Linked DNA regions of Homo sapiens. The protein of the gene in region 2 purifies or fractionates together with the protein of the main gene of each other region. This does not show direct contact. Each region holds a gene or a part of one and is shown on either strand. Other genes may lie near its edges.

What was found. The genes of interacting proteins can lie anywhere in the genome.
Region 1: the proteins of TRIM44 (region 2) and DACH2 purify together in Homo sapiens (affinity purification with mass spectrometry; 2 studies listed by BioGRID and IntAct, with this or other methods). This does not show direct contact.
Region 3: the proteins of TRIM44 (region 2) and ANKRD30B purify together in Homo sapiens (affinity purification with mass spectrometry, with the first as the bait; 2 studies listed by BioGRID). This does not show direct contact.

Annotation. Positions count from the first base shown.
Region 1 is NC_000023.11:86,144,490-86,151,463, forward strand, and holds the start of DACH2 (dachshund homolog 2), read left to right. Parts: upstream 1-3,961; 5' UTR 3,962-4,131; coding exon 4,132-4,619; intron 4,620-6,974. UniProt on the Homo sapiens protein: Transcription factor that is involved in regulation of organogenesis. Seems to be a regulator for SIX1 and SIX6.
Region 2 is NC_000011.10:35,812,766-35,818,530, forward strand, and holds the end of TRIM44 (tripartite motif-containing protein 44), read left to right. Parts: 3' UTR 1-5,242; downstream 5,243-5,765. UniProt on the Homo sapiens protein: May play a role in the process of differentiation and maturation of neuronal cells. May regulate the activity of TRIM17. Is a negative regulator of PAX6 expression.
Region 3 is NC_000018.10:14,743,968-14,751,184, forward strand, and holds the start of ANKRD30B (ankyrin repeat domain-containing protein 30B), read left to right. Parts: upstream 1-4,204; 5' UTR 4,205-4,452; coding exon 4,453-4,673; intron 4,674-7,217.

The DNA of each region.
Region 1 (6,974 bases), on a different chromosome or scaffold from region 2:
AAATGTTCATCTTTCCTTTAAGTATCGGATTTTAACTGTTACTCTTTGGGTTTTGACCAATTCTCTTGATGCTCTACTGGTCCCCTTTCTCCACCTTTGCCTCCCTTGGAATTCATCTTCAATTTAACATTGTAACTGAATGAAAAAAATGATGTTATAGATAATCGTATAACCAGTTTCCTAATGGGGTATACATGCATACATAGCTATAGGCTTTCATCACTTAAATTCTCAGTTATATGAAGGCTTTCATTTTACATTTATTGTCTTGCCCAATTTCCTTTTATTGTTTACCTAAAAGTGAACCTTAGAGGTCTCCTGGGAGGTTGTGATTAGCCGCCACATTCAAGGTTGTAACTTCAGTTGGCTGAGGGTTTCAAATAATTCCATTTATTACCTTGGGATTTACTTGAATGCCTGATCTGAAAACCAGTCCCTTCAAATAGTTCTGGATATTTTGCAGTGCTGCATAAGCATGCCAATATATGTATTTTTAATTTTTAGTTAAAATGGTACCTGCATTTTACTGACAGTGTCAAAGTAGAATATTTTGCCTAAAATCACAGATGAGCACCCTCCCCTCCAAACTGAGTATGAATTAAGATAAAATGTAAATTGTTAATTAAGTCATGGAAGTTTACAGCATTTCAGTGTATGGGAAACTACACTTAGGCCCCAAATCATTCCACTGGAATTAGAACTTCTTCTGATGAGATATGGTACCTGCTTATACTAATTTTGTCGTTATTTGTTGCGGTGGTTGGCTCCTGTCTTGTATTAATTCACAAACCTTGAGTATTTTCTTAGTTTTAATGCAGTGCCTCTCTCCATAGAGAGTCATCTCCCAAGGGTACTCTGTTTACTGCCACCTTTTTATGATTTTATATTGCATCAAGCAATTCCAAACTTACAGGGTGTTGATGTGAAAGGCTTCCTCTGGTCTTGTAGAAACCTAGCCCTGTTTAGAAGTATGTTTGGCTTATGGAAGACATTAAAATCAGAAAGGGACAAAAACAAACCCTCTGTGTAAAATTGATTGTCTCAATCTCAAAGCACTGATAGTAATAGTAGAAATAGTAGTGATAAAAAATAGAATAATCAAAAAGTCAAGAAAAAAGGAGACAAAACCTGCTCTCTTAGATCTAAACGACTAAATGTTTAAATTGCATGTGTTACTTAAGAACGCTACCAAGTTTATCTAGAAGACTGCAATGAGAAGGAATTCAAATAATGAAACCGAGGGTCTTTTGCGTGTTGAAAACTTCCAAAGAACTTTAACCTTTCAATGATCAATGGCCAATTTGAGTCTCTAGTATTTCTGCTAGAAATAGAACCGTAATCTTTAGTAATAATTAAAATATTACTGTAAACCTGATACATCTCATTAAACACATGACTTTTAATTTGTGCCTTTTCTAAAGTTGTCAAAGTATGTCTGTTCTTCAATTTCACAATTACTGATTACAGCATGAATGAATAATCTGCCTTTCTTTTTTTATATTTCAGATTTCTTAAATTTGAAACATCAAAATATCTGTGCAATGTTTTATTGCTGAAAACCCCAAATTGCTCTGCAAATAAAAAGGCCTTGATAATGTGGGCACAGCTACATACAAGGGGTAGCTTGGCCTTAGGATTTTTAACGTAATTAGAGCCATTTGAAAATAAAACATCCTTTACAGCCAAACTTATTCACCTGGAAATTTCAATCACAATAAGTTATCAGAGGCAAGCTATTTCAACAGATAGTTTAACAGCCATTTCAGTCAAAACACCTGTTGAATACAATTTGGGATTTCTCTTTTTAAAAACTGGTAAATACAAACATTTCTGTCAGTGCTGTTTTATTCTTTTTTGATACTTCTACTTTTGGTTGAGGCGTTTTCTGCCTTTGCTATTTCTTCTCAATTGTCCTTTTTTTGCCCCTTATTACTTTCTTCCCACAACAGTATCGATGTAGCAAAAACATTTTGATGCCTTTTAAAAATGTCTCGTGGCTGCCTATATCCCAATCTATTATGTTAGAGTCATATCACTGCATTTTGAAAGCAATGATCATCACAACTTCTTAGCATTTTAACCCTGTACAATTTGAAATTGAAACAGTATGAAGAGATTCAAAGGGCAGTTCTTAAACCTGGTTGATGAAATGAGAAAAGAAGAAAATATGTTGTAGAAAGAGGCAGAAAAATCCAATTTAGGGTATCTGTAACTAAATAAGGGAGCAAAAAGAACCCACACATTTCTCGTTGATCCTGCTAAGTACAACTAGGGCTGAATAAAATTCAGTAAGTTTCCAACATTATTTATATTTTAGAAGAATATCAGAGAAGTTACCATAAGCCATGTAGTTGGTAACGTTTTGTAAAGAAACGAAACCTGGATTTCACTTTATGAATAACTAACAGCCTCCAGAGAAGAGGAGCACAGGAAAGGAAATATCTTGGTTTTAGAGAATGAATAGCTTGACAAGGAGTCTTAAAACAACTTTGCTAGGCCAGGAGCGGTGGCTCACGCCTGTAATCCCAGAACTTTGGGAGGCCGAGGAGGGCGGATCACGAGGTCAGGAGTTCGAGACCAGCCTGGCCAATATGGTGAAACCCTGTCTCTACAAAAAAAAAAAAAAGTATGTATATGTGTGTATATATATGTATATATATGTATATGTGTGTATATATATATGTATATGTATACATAAATTAGCCAGGCATGGTGGCGCGCACCTGTTGTCCCAGTTACTCGGCCGAGGCAGGAGAATCGCTTGATCCCCGGAGGCGGAGGCTGCAGTGAGCCGAGACTGTGCCACTGCACTCTAGTCTGGGCGACAGAGTGAGAATCTGTCTCAAAACAAACAAAAACAACTTTGCTAAGGCGATCTAACCACCATATGCTGTGTGGAAAAGACCATTCCTTTTCCCTGGAATGTACCCTGCTTAGACATTTTGTTCTATAAGCTCTTAGTACGTTTGGGACGCTTGATGAGTGGGGGAAGTGGAATCTTGTTTAGGACTGGAGCTCCAATCACTGGACCTTCAAAGCCAATGGAAGAGGAAGGAAAATGCACGTTCAAGAATGCAAACCCTCGCCCTTTCCTCATATTCCGTGATGACTGTTTTGAGTCCTAAACAAACATTTCCTATCAATTTTAGCGGGGAGTAGGGCCAGGGCAATCTCGACACTAAGGGACGGGGACACAGACAAGTCTCTTCCAGGACAGTGGCGGAAGTGCCATAAAATGAGGTGTCCATCTGCCACCCACAGAGCAAGTCTCTCTGTTTCCCAAAGTGTTCACAGGCTCACTACGCTTCCTGAATGTCAGTGCGAGTTAGCAACCAGAACTCTGATCTGAGTATGATCTCGGACGCTTGTTCCTCTGCGCGCTGGGTAGGGGAAAATTTACACCAAGCGCACTTAGGTGGGCTAAAGGGCTGAGCTGTTTACTTCTGAACTCGCTAGCGTCTTTCTCCCGGAAGCTAGGCGAAGCCATCTATTAGCCCCCGCAGAGTTTGGGAGAGATGCGCAAGTGGAATTGGAGCTGCCACCTCACTTTCCACGATCTAACCCGGTGTAAGGTGGCGGAAGGGGCATGGGGAGGCACGTTCAGGAGTCGCGCTTTGCGTTTCCACCCCGACACCAGCGGAGCGCGGAGCGGATGGGTTCACAGCATAGGCCACTTTGAGAACTCTGCGTGACATCTGGGAGTTCTCTCGTCTGGCAGAGAGGCAAGAAGCAGAGGCACCACACCGCCCCCTTCTCGGACTGGATCTCTGTTCTTGGTCGAGCCTGGACCCACTCAGGTAGTCGGACGCCGGCCAGGGAGTCTCCACCTCCTCACCAGCGGCAGCCATTCGGAGCGCTCGGGCGCAGAAGGGCTGGGGCCCATTGGCTGTGGGACGCTGCCAGTCTCCGGAGGGGGTGTGGTGGGGGTGGGGTCTGGGGCCGCAGCGGGTCGGGGCTGCTCACTGTTTGTTGAGCTTGAGCGTGAGCCGGCTGCTGAAGACTTGCGAACAGTTCGGAGCCAGCGAGAGCGCGCCAGAGAGAGCGAGAGTGAGGGAGTGAGTGCGAGGGGATCTAGAGGAGTCAGGGCGAGAAAGCGAGGGCCGGAGGACCCACGATAGAGACAGAGTGACCATGGCTGTCTCCGCATCTCCAGTGATCTCTGCAACTTCCAGCGGCGCCGGCGTCCCGGGGGGCTTATTCCGGGCCGAACCCCTGTACTCGACTCCCAGAGAGCCCCCTCGTCTTACTCCTAATATGATCAATAGTTTCGTGGTTAATAACCACAGCAACAGTGCCGGAGGCGGCGGCAGGGGCAACACCAACACCAACGAGTGCCGCATGGTCGACATGCACGGGATGAAGGTGGCTTCGTTCCTGATGGACGGCCAGGAACTGATCTGCCTGCCGCAAGTCTTTGATCTTTTTCTCAAGCACCTGGTGGGAGGCTTGCACACTGTGTACACCAAGCTGAAGAGACTGGATATATCCCCCGTGGTGTGTACTGTTGAGCAGGTCCGGATCCTCCGCGGGCTGGGGGCCATCCAGCCCGGGGTAAACCGCTGCAAACTCATCACCAGGAAAGACTTCGAAACTTTGTTCACCGATTGCACCAATGCCAGGTGAGACACTCGTTTCTTGGCTCTCCCACTTCTCTTACCCCTTTGGCCTCTTCTGCATGCCTCACCACCCTCATCCAACTTTGTTTGTAGAGTGAGTCTTAACTAGTTTGCCTCTATTCTTCACGCTGTAAATCGGTGGGGAAAGAGGACTAGAAGCTTTCATTAATGCTGGTGCCTTCTAGTCCACGCTCAGTGCAAGGGCTTCGGTCTAAAAAAGTCCCGCAAACTTGAGTTTGCAGTCCTCTATTGAAACTTTCCAGCCTTTTGCCCATATCTTGCATGGCTTTTGGCTGTTCGTGGTTATTTGTTAATTTCTCTATTTGGTTTTCTTTCCTGCTCTTTTGTGGCCGCACGGGTCGGATAGGTTTTCTTCTGAACACGGATACCAAGGGCTTTCTCTGGGGGCTGGCTGAGCTGTAAACTGGGCTCCTAAGCTGGCAAGCCAGAACACAGCATTTGGGGCATGCAGGGGGTGGGAAGTCTAGAATCCATCCCAGAGGGTGATTCGATCCCCATCCCGTGTGTTTGTTGTGAGAATGTGTGGGGTGTGTGGTGTTGTTGTTTGTGGTGGTGTTGGTGTGTATGTGTGCAAGTGCGCGTGAGAACGTATGCTCATGCTTGCTGCGCAAAGCTCCCCAGTACACGATACAGGAAAGTCGATGGATACTATTTTTACAAAAGGACGACGACAAATATCACTTTCCTGGGATCGTCCGTTTTGGGTTATCTGCAGAGGGCAATGTGGGGCATGAACCACTGTGGCTGGGACTGGATTGGAGGTTGGTGTACAAGTTGGCAGATTTCTAGAGAGGATGCTCTCAGCTCTTCCAGGCGAACAGTTGGAAGGATCCCATTCCCTTAAAGACAGGATTCCTTAAATGATGATGGCCAGCTTCCCTGGTTGTAAGTGTACCTCCTTCATATCACAGTTTAGAAGTACACTAGTGAATAAATGTCCATTTGTATATGAGAAGCAAATTGTGTTCAATGTTTCTGAGTTTAAAAAGAAAAAAAGTATACTCAAGATTATCTGACTTTTTAAACGCCTGTGAATTAGTCTTCTAGTGTTTATTCCATCTCCAGTTTGGTAACATCTCAGGAAAGCACAGATTTGGCACAAAAATCACCATCACGTGGTTAAAAGGAGCAAAGGATTTTGTTGTAAAACAGCACTACTGCTTATTATTTTGCAAAAATAAAATAAAAAACCAACAACTTTCTCAAAATGAACTTTAAATCATAAAATCTCTGGGTCTGTGAACTAAAACTGTAACAGTTTGCCACATCTGTTGTAAAATCCAAATTGCCATGTATAGTTGAATGATACTGACAACTTGTAGGCAAACTGTTGCTTACTGCTGCAATAAGATAATGCTGCAGAACTTACAAGGGAAGCTTTTTCCTTCTTCTTTTTTTTCTTCAATTGAGCAGTGTTTTTCTGTGTTCAAGCAATTAAACAGAAAACTATTTATGTGAGAACTCCTACCTGATTCATATTTAGGGCTTACAAAGCTGGTTTATTATATCAGCTTTTCTTAAGGAAGATAGATGGCCTGAAAACACAAAGGATAACAGCTCCCTCAATAAAACAGGCAATTATGGATTGTAAGAGTAAAAAGACAATTTTATTTCGACTACAAAGCATTTTATTAGTACACAAACTAAAAAGGTTACAAGGGACTTCAGATAGTGGCCATCTAATTCATTTGTTGCCATCCAAAAACACTCAAACATTTAAATAATTGCAGACATGAAAACCTATTCTCTTATTAACTCTCTCTCTTTATCAGTCTCTCATCTCTCCATCCCTGTTCTTTCTCTCTTCCCCCTCTCCCATCTCTAAAAATGCCCATTCTTAAAGTGGAACAATTATTACACTTAGGAAATTCTTCCTTCCTCAATTAATTTGCACATTCTTGAGAAAAACCTATGACCATGATTTTCAAATAAATAGATTAGTATTTTAATATGATTTTGATACTTTTCTCTATAAATGGAAACTTTTCCTAATTTTTATTAGAGCTACTTACTAAAAAAAAAAATCCAGAGGCAGGTGATCTTGTAATATTTTTGGACCCTGTTATACCATGTATTTTTAGGTTATTATTTTATCTAATTAGCTTTTATTTACTGCTTATCACAGCAATAGTAACTTTTCATGTGTGTGAATTGCTTTTGTGTATGTGTGTGTATAAAGGTGATAGAGAAATATTAAATATGTAGGAAGAAATAGATCTGTGATGTGATTCATGTGGCTTCTATTGCATTTTCTTTTCTTTACGGGTATTTGGTTTATTATATTCATATTTTAAAACTGTGTTACAAGTATTGCAATTTTATTAATTGTAAAAATTT
Region 2 (5,765 bases):
AGAAGGTCTTGCTTTGTATAGCCTGTAAAATGCAATGTACAGTGAGGGAAAGAAAGTCTAAGGGTAGCAGTCAAATCTTCTGGCCTGAAACTGTACTTTTGGAAGGGAGAACTGTTAGACTTGCTTTATCTTCTTTATTCCAAGGCCATAAATAAGAAAATCAACGAGAGGCAAAACCATGTCTTCTTTTGCTATAGCGTTAGAATCCTGAAAGTCAGCCAGCTCTGACACTGAGTCTGTGATTTAATTAAACATGTTGAAGGCTCTCCAACAGCTTGACGTCAGGCCAGCTTCATATTCTTGGAAAGGGACAACAGCAAAAGGAGCTTATCTGTTTTAAAGTTCACTTACTGAGTTCAGCTGTCACGGCCACAGCATACCATTTGCCTTATAAAAATGGCCCACAACCTTCACAATATTTTAGGATTCATGGCAACTCATTTACCTAGGGCTTAGCCACCTGATAGCTTTACCTATCCCTATTTCCTGAACACAAAATCTAAACCAGTGGTTTGACAATGAGTAACTGAGACAGAACTAGAAAAATCTAGAACCTCTGCTGAACCCATCAAAAGTGACTGAGAATTAAGAAGTAAGCAAACAAGGCTTCCAACCAATTGAAATAAATACCATGAAGCAAACGCATAAGACAAAGGCCATACATCTAGTCATCAGGCACCTCCTCAGAACCTATTTGCTCTTCCTTCACACATATTTCTAACTGTAAAGGAAAGAAACAGACTTTTAGAGGAAACAAGAAGGAAAAAGGAGGACAGCAATAGAGAAAATGGAAATTTTGAGTAGACTGCAAAGCTCCAAAGCCCTGATATATGGGTTATTTAGTGTCAAAAACAGTCTATACACATCTCAATCTTTAAGAGCCTCACTGTATCATGGGACAATATTCTATTTAAAATGATGACCCTGTGCACCATACATAAAAAAACTATGCTTAGAAGACAAAAATATGTATATCAAACATTTTAGAAATATTTACATCCCAATGGTTAAAAAAAAAAACTTTTAGGAATTAAAAGGAATAAACCTTTGACCATCCAGAATATTTAGCTAAATCAAACAGTGTATATCCCCCTAGCTGACTTTTATTGTTTCATGAGCCTCTGGTGTTCAGAGAGTTTTTTTCACAGCTTTGTAAGTGACTTTCATGCTACAGTGCTTTGCATATAATGGCATGAACAGTGGAGGTGCCAACTTTCCAATGTGATGAATAAAACTAATAACTAGAATACAGATCAAATTCTGTTACAACAAATACTGCTACCATAAAAGTCACTTAAGCATCCCTGTTAGTTCTAAGCCCCTGTCGATTGCCCATTTATTTTAGGCAATAGTCATTCAACAAAATTGGAGCATAATAAAAAGAAACTGGACCTCAGCGCAAGTTGAGTGTTACACAATTTAACCTGTAATAACAGGTTCTCACTTGTATTTCTCCAGCTCTTTGCTGTAAGAAGAATAAACGTTATGTAGATATAATACCAGCGTGACAGCTTGTGGTTGGTGGTTTCTAGAAGAAATAATTCAGAAGCAAAAGACACATGAAGTTATGTGGCAGTTCCTCACTAGGGAATTTGGTCTCCAGGGCCACTTTTGACCTTAATCCATGTTGGAGCCATCAATCAAAGAATTGCTTGCATCTAATAATGGTGTAATGCCAATACTAAGCCCTGGAACGAAGATAGGATTCATTTCTCATGGATTATTGAGCACTCTGGGGTAACCTGGCCCTGATCTGATGACGCTAAGATTTAAAAACCCAGATGCATGTGACTAGAACTATCTTTTCTCCCATGATGCACTGCTTTCAACACTGCATGACTGTAAAAACATGTGCCACGCTGATTATATATAGAGATGGTCTAAATCAGCTGCATCCCATTTGGTACCCAGGCAAGGATTTTTCCATACCTATCTTTTTGCTGGTGGTAATGATGAGTTTTGTCACTTGCTATAACATTCTCTGTCCGTCTTTTTTCTTTTATGTAAATACTTTTGTGACTTCATTGTAACCAGCATTTTGTAATACTCTTAACAGCAGAGGGGATTAAATCATGATTCACTTCTGAACAGTACAATCAGCAGTAGGAAAACGAGGAGGGAGGGAGAGGGAAATTGTCCACCACTTCCCAATGATAATGCCTGGCTCGGACCCCAGATTCACATCATACTTGAAGTTCATAAATTCTGGGCACTGCTCAGCTTGAGGAGGCAGGCATTGCTCCTTCATATTTCAGGGTGAGACAAATGCTCTGTTGAAGCCATGCCACTACAGGATACATTCACCTCTGCTTGCTTTCCTCCCTAAGCCAGAGTGTAGTTAAACATTTATATGTCCCAGGCCAGGAGATCAAATTAAGAGGAGGTTAGCTACTTTCCCTGGCTCTTAAAAACATTTGAGTCCAAGTATGGTTCTCTGGCTTGAGGGTGGCCATTTGTTGCCTCACTGTTTTTATTAGGACATCTGGAGATTAGAGGTGTTAATTGGAAGTAACTTTTCTATATTTGGTTTCTCTCCACACATTATGAGACCTTTTAGACCCAGTTGGATGGCTGTATCCTAGTATGAAATTCAGCTTCTAAGTAGGAAGAACTATGATAGAGGAACAAGATTGCTCTTTGACTTGGTGATAGTAGGGCAATAGGGAGTGTCAGTAGGGTAGTTTCAGGTGGGGAGGATGACAAACCACTGATAACAATAAAAATGGGTATTTCTCAACACTCAAGCCAATTTCCCATTTGATAACAAGTAGGTTCTGATCTATTTTCCCCAAATTAATATTTTCCCTGGAAGATTCTGACCTGTCTGATCAAATAAAGGCATTCCTCTGAGAGTATACCTAGCCCACTTGTGGCCAAATTATACTTGACTGTTATGTACTCAAAACAAGCTTTCCTGTTAATCTCTTTCTCTTACCTCTATTATGAGGACAAGACGTGGAAGAATTAGGTCACCGGGGCATCTGCCATTGCATATGTTTAAGTGGTATAAAGAAGCCAGGATTCCTAGAATGGTCTGTCTTTTGCCATTTCTGGGACAATGAGAAAATCCATCTGGAGTGTTTATGCCCCTCTGAATAGCCAAGTCATGGGCTTGTTTGCTTTCAGTCACTGCCTTCAGAAAAAGACAATTTTACAATGACTTACTTCTAATAATCACTGAAACAGCCTCATGAGGACATGCAAAACTGCTGTCTATCTTCAGACCTGGCCCATTGTCAAATGGCAGACTTGCAGAGCAAATAAGGGACCTGGCCTAGTTCACAAGGCAGTCAGAAGTGATCCAAAGTTCAGGCTCCCCCTCCCTTTTATCACTCCACCCTGCCTCTACTCCTCCGCCTCCTATTCTTCCGGCCTTTCCATCTGGAAACCATGAGCCTCATGGATTCCAGGCACAAATTCTCAGATTTCAGATGTTTGGGAAATTTCTCAGCTTGGGTCATTCTTCAAGAGTAAGAAATTGAATTTGTGAGAAAAAAAAACAGCTGAGACTGTTTCACAGAAGAGAAAATAAATAAGGTGTGGTGCGTATCCATCCTCTTCCCAACTCAGCTCCAAAACCACACACAATGTCTAACTTCAAAAAGAGTATTTAGATCCCCCCTGGGAAGGAACAGAATGGAAAAACAATCTCCACTCATAAAAACACTTTTCTGCCTTCTACAGTATAAACACAACTGGCATCAGATAATACAATGTAATTGATTTTATGTGTGTAATTGGGGAACAGAAGGGTCTCTAGAGGGTAGACCTAAGAGTAATGGAATGGAGTGAAAAGTAAAATTTAGACTAAATTGTTGGGAGGAAACTGTTAACATTGTGAACCACTTGACCCTAGTGTTGCATCTTCACAAAAAAGAGCAATGTGCCGTCTTCTGTCTTTGGAAAATGGGACAAGCTTGCTCCTGATACTAGGTTTTAGAAGCATACAGACTTGGTTTTAGTACTGGCTTTGTTCTTTACTAACTCTGAACAATTAAATGAGCAGATGGTCTACAGGGCTTAGTACAGTGCCTGACACATAGTAAGCACTTAGAAATGGTAGCTTCTGACTGTTGTGCTGGAGTCCTGTTAGAGATTCAGTAGATGGAGCCACCTTCATGTTGCCCCTCACTGAGCTGCTCTGCTCACCTCTAGATGCTCCCCATGGCTGTTTCATAGCCCTCTGTACCACATCCCCATGTACTTTTTCATATCAACGGTAAGTACCTCAAATTACCGTATGTATTTACTTGTTCATAAGGTTGATGTCTGTAACTCTTTGAAGGTTGTATTAGTCGTTTGCTCCTATATTACTAATGATGACAAAGTCGCCTGACAGAGTAGATGTTCAAATTTATGGACTTAAACTGACTGACATCTTGATAATGCCCATATCCAGAGGTACTCCAGATATTATATCTTCATGCAGAAAACTGAAAGATACCTTTAGCTACATCTACCCCAGAATGAGTGTCCAAAGCAGGTGGCACCACCAAAAGGCACCTTCTTTTCCCATGAAAAGAGGGAAGAGAGTTGAGAAGCCTCACTCCCATCCCTGCTCTGCCACTGACAAGTTGTGTGGCATTTGGCACATCATGTTCTCTCTCTACATGCGCCTAAAATGACGGGTAGGGTCAGAGACATTGGAGGATCTCTCTTTTCTCTTCCACCTCTAACACGGTAAGATCTTAGCAAAGTAAAAAGGACAGTGATAACAGAAAAATTGTTCCTCTAAGAGTCCCAAGTCATCTTTTTTCTCTCCGTGTGTGTTAGCATTTGTGTGTGTCTGTGGGTGTGTATGCATGTGTGTGGAAGCTATACAAGGAAAGCTGAATCCATATGTAGACTTCATGGAGACTAGTACTGCTCCAAATGTGCACAAGCCATGTGATATGGTTTGCCTCTGTGTCCCCACCCAAATCTCATGTTGAAATGTAATCCCCAATGCTGGAGGTGGGACCTGGTGGGAAGATTGGATCATGGGGGAGTTTTCTCATGATTTAACAACATCCGCCCTTTGTTGTCATGATAGTGAGTTCTTGTGAGATCTGGTTGTTTAAAAATATGTGACACCTCCCCCCACCTTCCTTCTGCTCTGGCCATGTAAAGTGCTCACTCCCCCTTTGCCTTCCACCATGATTGTAAGTTTCCTGAAGCCTCCCTAGAAGCTGAGCAGATGCCAGCATCATGCTTGCTGTGCAGCCTGCAGAACTGTGAGCCAATTAAACCTCTTTATGAATTATGCAGTCTCAGGTGTTTCTTTATAGCAGTGAAAGAACGGACTAATACACCACGAAAAAAAAAAATGTACCACAGTCAAATAAACTGGGAAGCAAAACAGTGGGCCAAACAAAGTTAAATAGGTTTCTTCCCTGTAGAATTTCTGGGAGCTTTTAATATGTTCACGTGCATTGTAGAGCTTTCATGTAACAATTTTCTAGTTTTCTGGCAGTTCTGTGTAACAATTTTAGGAAACACTGATTTAGAGATGAATCTAACTCTTCCTGAGTTAACTGTTGAGAGAACAAAGGCCCAAAGAGATTCAAGGATTTGCTTAAGGTCACCTGGCTATTGGGAAAGCTGAGTTCTCCATATTTGACCACTGCATCCCAGAAGAGAATGTCTGTTTAGTGACTCAAGAGCCCACATTAGAACATTCTAGGAGACATCCCAAGGTTTCTCCCTTGATTCTAAAGGGAAGAGTTTGATAGGCTGCAATTCTCTGTCTCAGGACTTGCACAGACATTAACGTTCAGCATAGTGCA
Region 3 (7,217 bases), on a different chromosome or scaffold from region 2:
TTCATAATGTAACCAGAAAATGACCCTTGAGATCCTTGAGAGTGATTATGTAAACATATCCTTGATTTGGTGTCTCCAGCCTAATTATCACAGTTAAAATTTTGGTATTAAAAATGGAGCAAAGATAATAAGACTTGTAAAGCAGCAGACCTTACAAAATGTTAAAAACAATTTTATTTACGTAGTGCCTCCACACAGACCTAATTATATGTATTAAACCTAATGTTTAACATTATTAGCGAGTCAGAGAATTTAGAAAAATCAGACATAATTTTAGATAAAATAAATATTAATACTAGTCATTAATATTAATCCCTGTTTGATAAAATGACTCTATATGAAAATAACTGCCCTCAAATTACTTTCATCTCACATATTTTTAATGAAAGGAAATGGTGGCTGGGGGCAGTGGCTCACACCTGTAATAACAACACTTTGGGAGGCCAAGGCCGCAGATCACTTGAGATCAGGAGTTCAAGACCAACCTGGCCAACCAGGTGAAACTCCATCTTTACTAAAAATACAAAAGTTAGCTGGTTGTGGTGGTGGGTGTAATCCTAGCTACTCGGGAGGCTAAGGCAGGAGAATCACTTGAACACAGGAGGTGGAGGGTGCAGTGAGCCAAGATCGTGCTACTGCACTTCAACCTTTGCAAGAGATCAAAACTCTGTCTCAATAAATAAATAAATAAATAAATAAATAAATAAGGAGATGGTATGGAATCATTATTAATGTTGGGCCCCTCATGTTAGCTAATATGTTTAAACCTAGGTCAAGATAGAAACTGACCCAGATTATTAGCATGTTTCAGTGCATAATATTTTAAAATAATTCAACACTGACACATAATACTATGCTATTCCACTTAGATATAAAAAAATGGCAAGAGAAGTCTCATGTTCTTGTCCCGGCATGGTGACTTACACCTGTAATCCTAGCACTTTGGGAAGCCAAGTGGGGAGGATCCCTTGAGGCCAGAAGTTTGAAACCAGACTGGGCAACATAGTGAGACCTATCTCTACAGAAAATTTAAAAACTAGATGGGCGTTGTGGCAAGCACCTGTAGTCCCAGCTACTGGGGAGGCTGAGGTGGGAGAATTGCTTTTCCCAGGAGTTCCAGGCTACAGGGAGCTATGATCACATCACTGCACCCCAGCCTCCGTAATACAGTGAGACCCTGTCTCTTAAACAAAAACAAAAAATAATCCCAGAATTCTAATGTTCTTATATGATACAGGACTTTTAAAAATTAGCCAGGCATGGTGGCCCATGCCTGTAGTCCCGGCTACTTGGAAGGCTGAGGCACGAGAATCACTTGAGCCTGGGAGGCGGAGGTGGCAGTGAGTCGAGATCACGCCACTATACTCCAGCCTGGATGGTAGAGTGAAACTCTGTCTCAAAATAAATAAATGAGTGAAAGTACACCGAAAGTTTTAACTTAACAAATTTTATTTACGCCTCACATTGATGGAGTGACAAGAACAAATAAGTAATACTAATGAAGGTATAGGATATTTTACAATTTTTTAAAAATTAGACCCTTATATACACAAAGTAATTGAATTTTTTTTTTTTTTTTTTTTTTTTTTTTTTTGAGACGGAGTCTCGCTCTGTCACCAGGCTGGAGTGCAGTGGTGCGATCTCGGCTTGCTGCAACCTTCGCCTCCTGGGTTCAAGCAATTCTCCTGCCTCAGCCTCTCGAGTAGCTGGGACTACAGGCACGCGCCACCACGCCCGGCTAATTTTTTGTATATTTAGTAGAGACGGGGTTTCACCATGTTGGCCACGATGGTTTCCATCTCTTGACCTCGTGATCCACCTGCCTGGGCCTCCCAATGTGCTGGGATTACAGGTGTGAACCACCACGCTCAGCTGCAAAGTGATTTAAATTTATCAACAATTTTAATGCAAAATTTTTGTCATTTGTGATATTTTCCAATAGCTTATCCGAATTCCTTAGAATCAGATTTCAAAATAAGATTCCCAAGTCAGATTTCTTTGAAATTACAATCCGAAAATATTTAGATTTTAGAAAGGTAATGTGGTAAATATTCTGCCTATTATGGAATAACTCTAATGGCAAATCATATGAATAATCACATGAACTGGGATCAATAAGACTATAAATACCCCTGGTCGGGTGCGGTGGCTCACACCTGTAATCCTAGCACTTGGTGAGGTTGAGGCGGGTGGATCACAAGGTCAGGAAGTCGAGACCATCCTGGCTAACACGGTGAAATTCCGTCTCTACTAAAAATACAAAAAATTAGCTGGGCGTGGTGGCAGGCACATGTAGTCCCAGCTACTCGGGAGGCTGAGGCAGGAGAATGAATGGCGTGAACCCAGGAAGTGCAGCTTGCAGTGAGCCAAGATCAAGCCACTGCACTCCAGCCTGGGCGACAGAGCGAGACTCCGTCAATTCACTAGGGATAAAAGTCAGAAGAACAGAAATTGTGAGTTCCTTTGTGAAGATCCAAGGACCTTCAAGGACCTCTGAATAGCCAAGAATAATCATTCCTGTTTTTCATCTTCAATGGATAAAAGAGCCCATTATACCTTTCTAGCCTATTCTGGAATAAGTAACAATGAAATTTTATTTAGTGTAAACTAACAAAGAAAACAGAGTAAGTTAATGAAATGTAGTCTCTACAACTTGTTAGACTGTTTATTTTTTATTTGTTTTTTATTTTTAGTTGGACTTTGTTTTTGAGACGGAATCTCGCTCTGTCACCCAGTCTGGAGGGCAAGGGCTTGATCTCGGCTCACTGCAACCTCTGCTTCTCAGGTTCTAGTGATGCTCCCTGCCTCAGTCTCCCTAGTAGCTGGGATTACAGGCGCACACCACCACGCCCAGCTATTTTTAGTAAAGACAGGGTTTCGCCATGTTGGCCAGGCTGGTCTCCAACTCCTGACCTCAGGTGATCTGCCCGCTTCAACCTCCCAAAGTGCTGGGATTACAGGCTTGAGTCACGGCACCAGGCAACATGCTAATTTTTGTATGTGTGGTAGAGACGGGGTTTCACTCCATGTTGGCCAGGCAGGTCTCCACCTCGATCTCAGGTGATCCACCGGACTCGGCCTCCCAAAATACTGGGATTACAGGCCAGAGTCACCGCGACCGGCCTGCGTCCATGTTACTTAAAGTACAAAGTAACCTACAAAGTAACCCGCCAGGCGCGGTGGCTCACGCCTGAAATCCCAGCATTTTCAGAGGCCGAGGCAGGCGAATCACCTGAGGTCGGGAGTTGCCGAGACCAGCCTGACCAACATGGAGAAACCCCGTCTCTACTAAAAAAAAAAAAAAAAAAAAAAAAAAAAAAAATTAGCCAGCATGGTGGCACATACCTGTAATCCCGGCTACTCAAGAGGCTGAGGCAGGAGAATCGCTTGAACCTGGGAGGCGGAGGTTGTTGCAGTGAGCCGAGATCGCACCATTGCACTGTAGCCTGGGCGTCAAGAGCCAAACTCCGTCTCAAGAAAAAAAGATTACATCCTGGCACGGTGGTTCATGCCTGTAGTGGCAGCAGCGGTGGCAACCCCAGAACCTGTCCGTGCCACCAGCAGCGGGGAACCCCAGGGTCGGACGCCGCCACTGCGCCTAAATCAGGCGGTGGGACCTCAGCTGTGTGAGGGCGGGAACCTGCCGCAAAGCCTCATCCTGGCAACTATACATGGCCCAGAGGTCGCGAGCCTGCGCTGCCAGCGCGGGCCAAGGAAGAGCAGAGCCCAGGGTGGAAGGGCGGTGCACTCGGCGACCCTCAGCGGTCTGGGCCCAGCCCTGCAGCCTCCACCGTGGACTCAGGTGCAGCTCCCACCTGAACATGGCACGCGGCAGCGGGGGCTCCAACCCGGACCCTGTCCGTGCCAGCAGCAGGGCGGATACTTGGGCCAGAAGCTTCCAGGGCGCCTAAGTGAGGGGGTCGGTCCCCAGCTGCAGGAGGGCGGGAATCGACGCTCAGCGCGGCCCTGGAGGCTGCACGGTGCCCAGTACCAGGGTCCAGCTCCTGGATCGCGGGTCGAGGAGGGGCCAGGGGCGGCTATGTCAAGCAGGCCGTGTTGCAGGGAGCCCCACACGTTCCGCTCCAGGGAGGCCCGCCAGCCCGGCAGCGCCTCAGCGGCCGGTGCCACCTGCACGCGGTGCCCGGTGGAGCGCGGCCAGGGCGCGTGTCTCCTCAGCCTGCTGAGCTGCGCGTGAGCTGCTGCTGTAACGCTCTAACGTTAGAGCAGCTAACGGCTCTGCTCAGAATTTCTCCCGACAGAGGCCGGAGTGTTCAAGAGCTTGGCGATACAGAAATTTCTGCTGGTGTTGGGGCGGGTGCGGGAACTGAAGACGGGCGAGTGCGAGCCGGGGGCGGGTGCTGGGGAAGGGTAAGCGGGAAGCGAGGGCGAGGGGTAGGGGCTGGGGAAGGGCGAGCGGGAGGCGCGGGCTCTCTCTAGCAGGGGGCTGCAGCCATGAAGAGGCTCTTAGCTGCCGCTGGCAAGGGCGTGCGGGGCCCGGAGCCCCCGAACCCCTTCAGCGAACGGGTCTACACTGAGAAGGACTACGGGACCATCTACTTCGGGGATCTAGGGAAGATCCATACAGCTGCCTCCCGGGGCCAAGTCCAGAAGCTGGAGAAGATGACAGTAGGGAAGAAGCCCGTCAACCTGAACAAAAGAGATATGAAGAAGAGGTACCAGGCCCTGCCTGAGCCGGGGCTGCAGGAGGAGGAGGCGGCTGTGGGAGGATCGCCCCTTCAGAGTGGTGGCTGGGGGTCCTGGGGACGAGGGGAGCAGGTGGAGGAGTGGCGGGCGATGGGGCGGCCGTCCTGGGCCCCGAGGTCTTGGCCTTCTTCCCGGTCAGGCCCCCCAGGCCTGGGATGGGGGCGCCCTGCAGGGCAGAGGGCACAGGCCACCTTAAAATCAACCCCAAGCTTTAGCTGCTTTCTCCTTCACTCCCACTTCCCCTCACAAAGCACTCTGTAGAAAATTTTAAAGTGATTAAACTCACAAAATTAAGTACATACAGGGTTTTACTTTTAATGTACAGGTTTTAAAAGATAATGTTAGATACACTATGAAATGGTGCATAATGAACTAATTCCCATAATATATGACCTTCTTGGCTAAAAATTCTTTGGATAAAGTCCAATGTCCATTTTGATATCAATGAATGTCTATGTAAATATGTTCTTTGCTGAGGGACCTTAGAAGGAAACTTCGAGGTGGGAAGATAGTTTATGTTCTTGAATTTAAGAAGACTCATTTTTCTCAAGATGCGACTTACCAGTTTTACATAAACCAAATAAAGCTATTAACGTTTTAACATTTTTTAAATTACACAGGCTTTTACTGTTGTGATGACATTTTAAATATTTTGTAATGGAGTAGAAAAGTCTTGCCCTTCTAGATATCAAAATGCGCTATTAATTTGCACAAAATGGGCCAGGAGCGGTGGCTCACGCCTGTAATCCCAGCACTTTGGGCGGCCGAGGCGGGTGGATCATCTGAGGTCAGGAGTTCAAGACCAGCCTGGCCAATATGGTGAAACACCGTCTCTACAAAAATACAAAAATTAGCTGGGCCTGATGTCGGGTGCCTGTAATCCCAGCTACTTGGGAGGCTGAGGCGGGAGAATTGCTTCAACCTGGTAGGTGGAGGTTGCAGTGAGCCGAGATCCCACCATTGCAATCCAGCCTAGGTGACAGAGTGAGACTCTGTCTCAAAAAAAAAAAAAAAAAAAAAAAAAAAAAAAATCACAGATTGTTTGCTAACAGCTGAAAAGACAGGTAAATGAATACAACAGAATAGAAAATCCAGAAACACCCAAACATATGTAAGAATTTAGAACTTGATAATGATCACAAGGATCATTATCCTTGTGGAAAAGAATTAGTTTCATAATTCTTTTAGGAATATGAATTATTAGGAAAAGAATTAGTTTCATAAGTGAAATGCCTGCTTTTTGGAGAAAACTAGATTTTTATGGCACAAAATAAGTTCCTGATGGAATATAGATTAAAAATTTTTAATATACAAAAAGATAAAAATACCAGAAAAAACATAAATGCCTATTTACACAGATACATTTTTATGTTGACAAAACCTTTCTAAGAAGCTCAGAAGCAAGCATTCTGAAGAGTAATTTAGTAAAACAAAAATTAAATCACCCTGCATATGAGAAAAAATAAAAGGCAGCATACTTGTAAAATATTTACTACTCATGTATGTGTGTGTGTGTATACATATTAGAATTAAAAATCTTCCTTTTATAGAGAATTCACTCAAATCAACAGAAAACCCTCTAATTTAAAATTGGGCAATTTAAGTTAGAGATCTAAATTGCAGATCTAAAAAAGTACTTGGCCTCTAATTTAAAACTGGGCAAAGTCCTTTTTTAAGATCTGCAAGTAACCTATGCACACAGGAAACAATATTAGTGTTCCTGGTTAGAGAAGGCATTTAAGTTAAAAGAGGAATCAAATACTGTTTTCTATCCACAAAGTTTGTGAGGATAAAAAGCAGTGATATTTATAGTACTCCTTAAAGTGTAAGTTGCAGATGAGTTTTCAAATAAACAATTTGATGGTAAGTACCATATTTAAAAAATTGTATATGCCCATTAGTGATCCATTCTATTATACTAAAATATTTTTAGAAAATAATGCAACATACACACAATTTCTTTTCTGAGCACTGCTTAAAATATCAATGTATTAAAAAGAATCCATTTAATGGCTTTTATAAATACATTTCAGTGAGTTTACAGCATGGGATAATATGTGACCACTCAAGGTAGAAACATATACGGAAGTATGTTGACATTTGAAAATGTATTTTGGTGTACCAAGTGAGGGTAAAATTCAGTTTGATTATACATACAGACTATGGTCTTGTGTTATCTGAAATTATGTCCAAAATTTGATAACATTTGCTATTTGAGGATACTTGTTTTAATATAAAATGTTTTTCCTTTTTTTATCTTTGATTTCTGCATTGAGCATGTACGATGCTATTAGTAAAAGTTTATTATTAATGAAATAATTTTTGGGAGGAGCAGCAATATGTATTTTGCACAGATGAAAATAATTTCTCACTTTCTATATTTTATTTTTTTGTGCATTTGTATATTCTGTGAACTTTTAGCATCTTCAGAAGAGAATATTTTTATCTCTGCTTATTGATTTACATATACATTTTATTAAACACATTTTTATTATATATAGGCTTATTACATA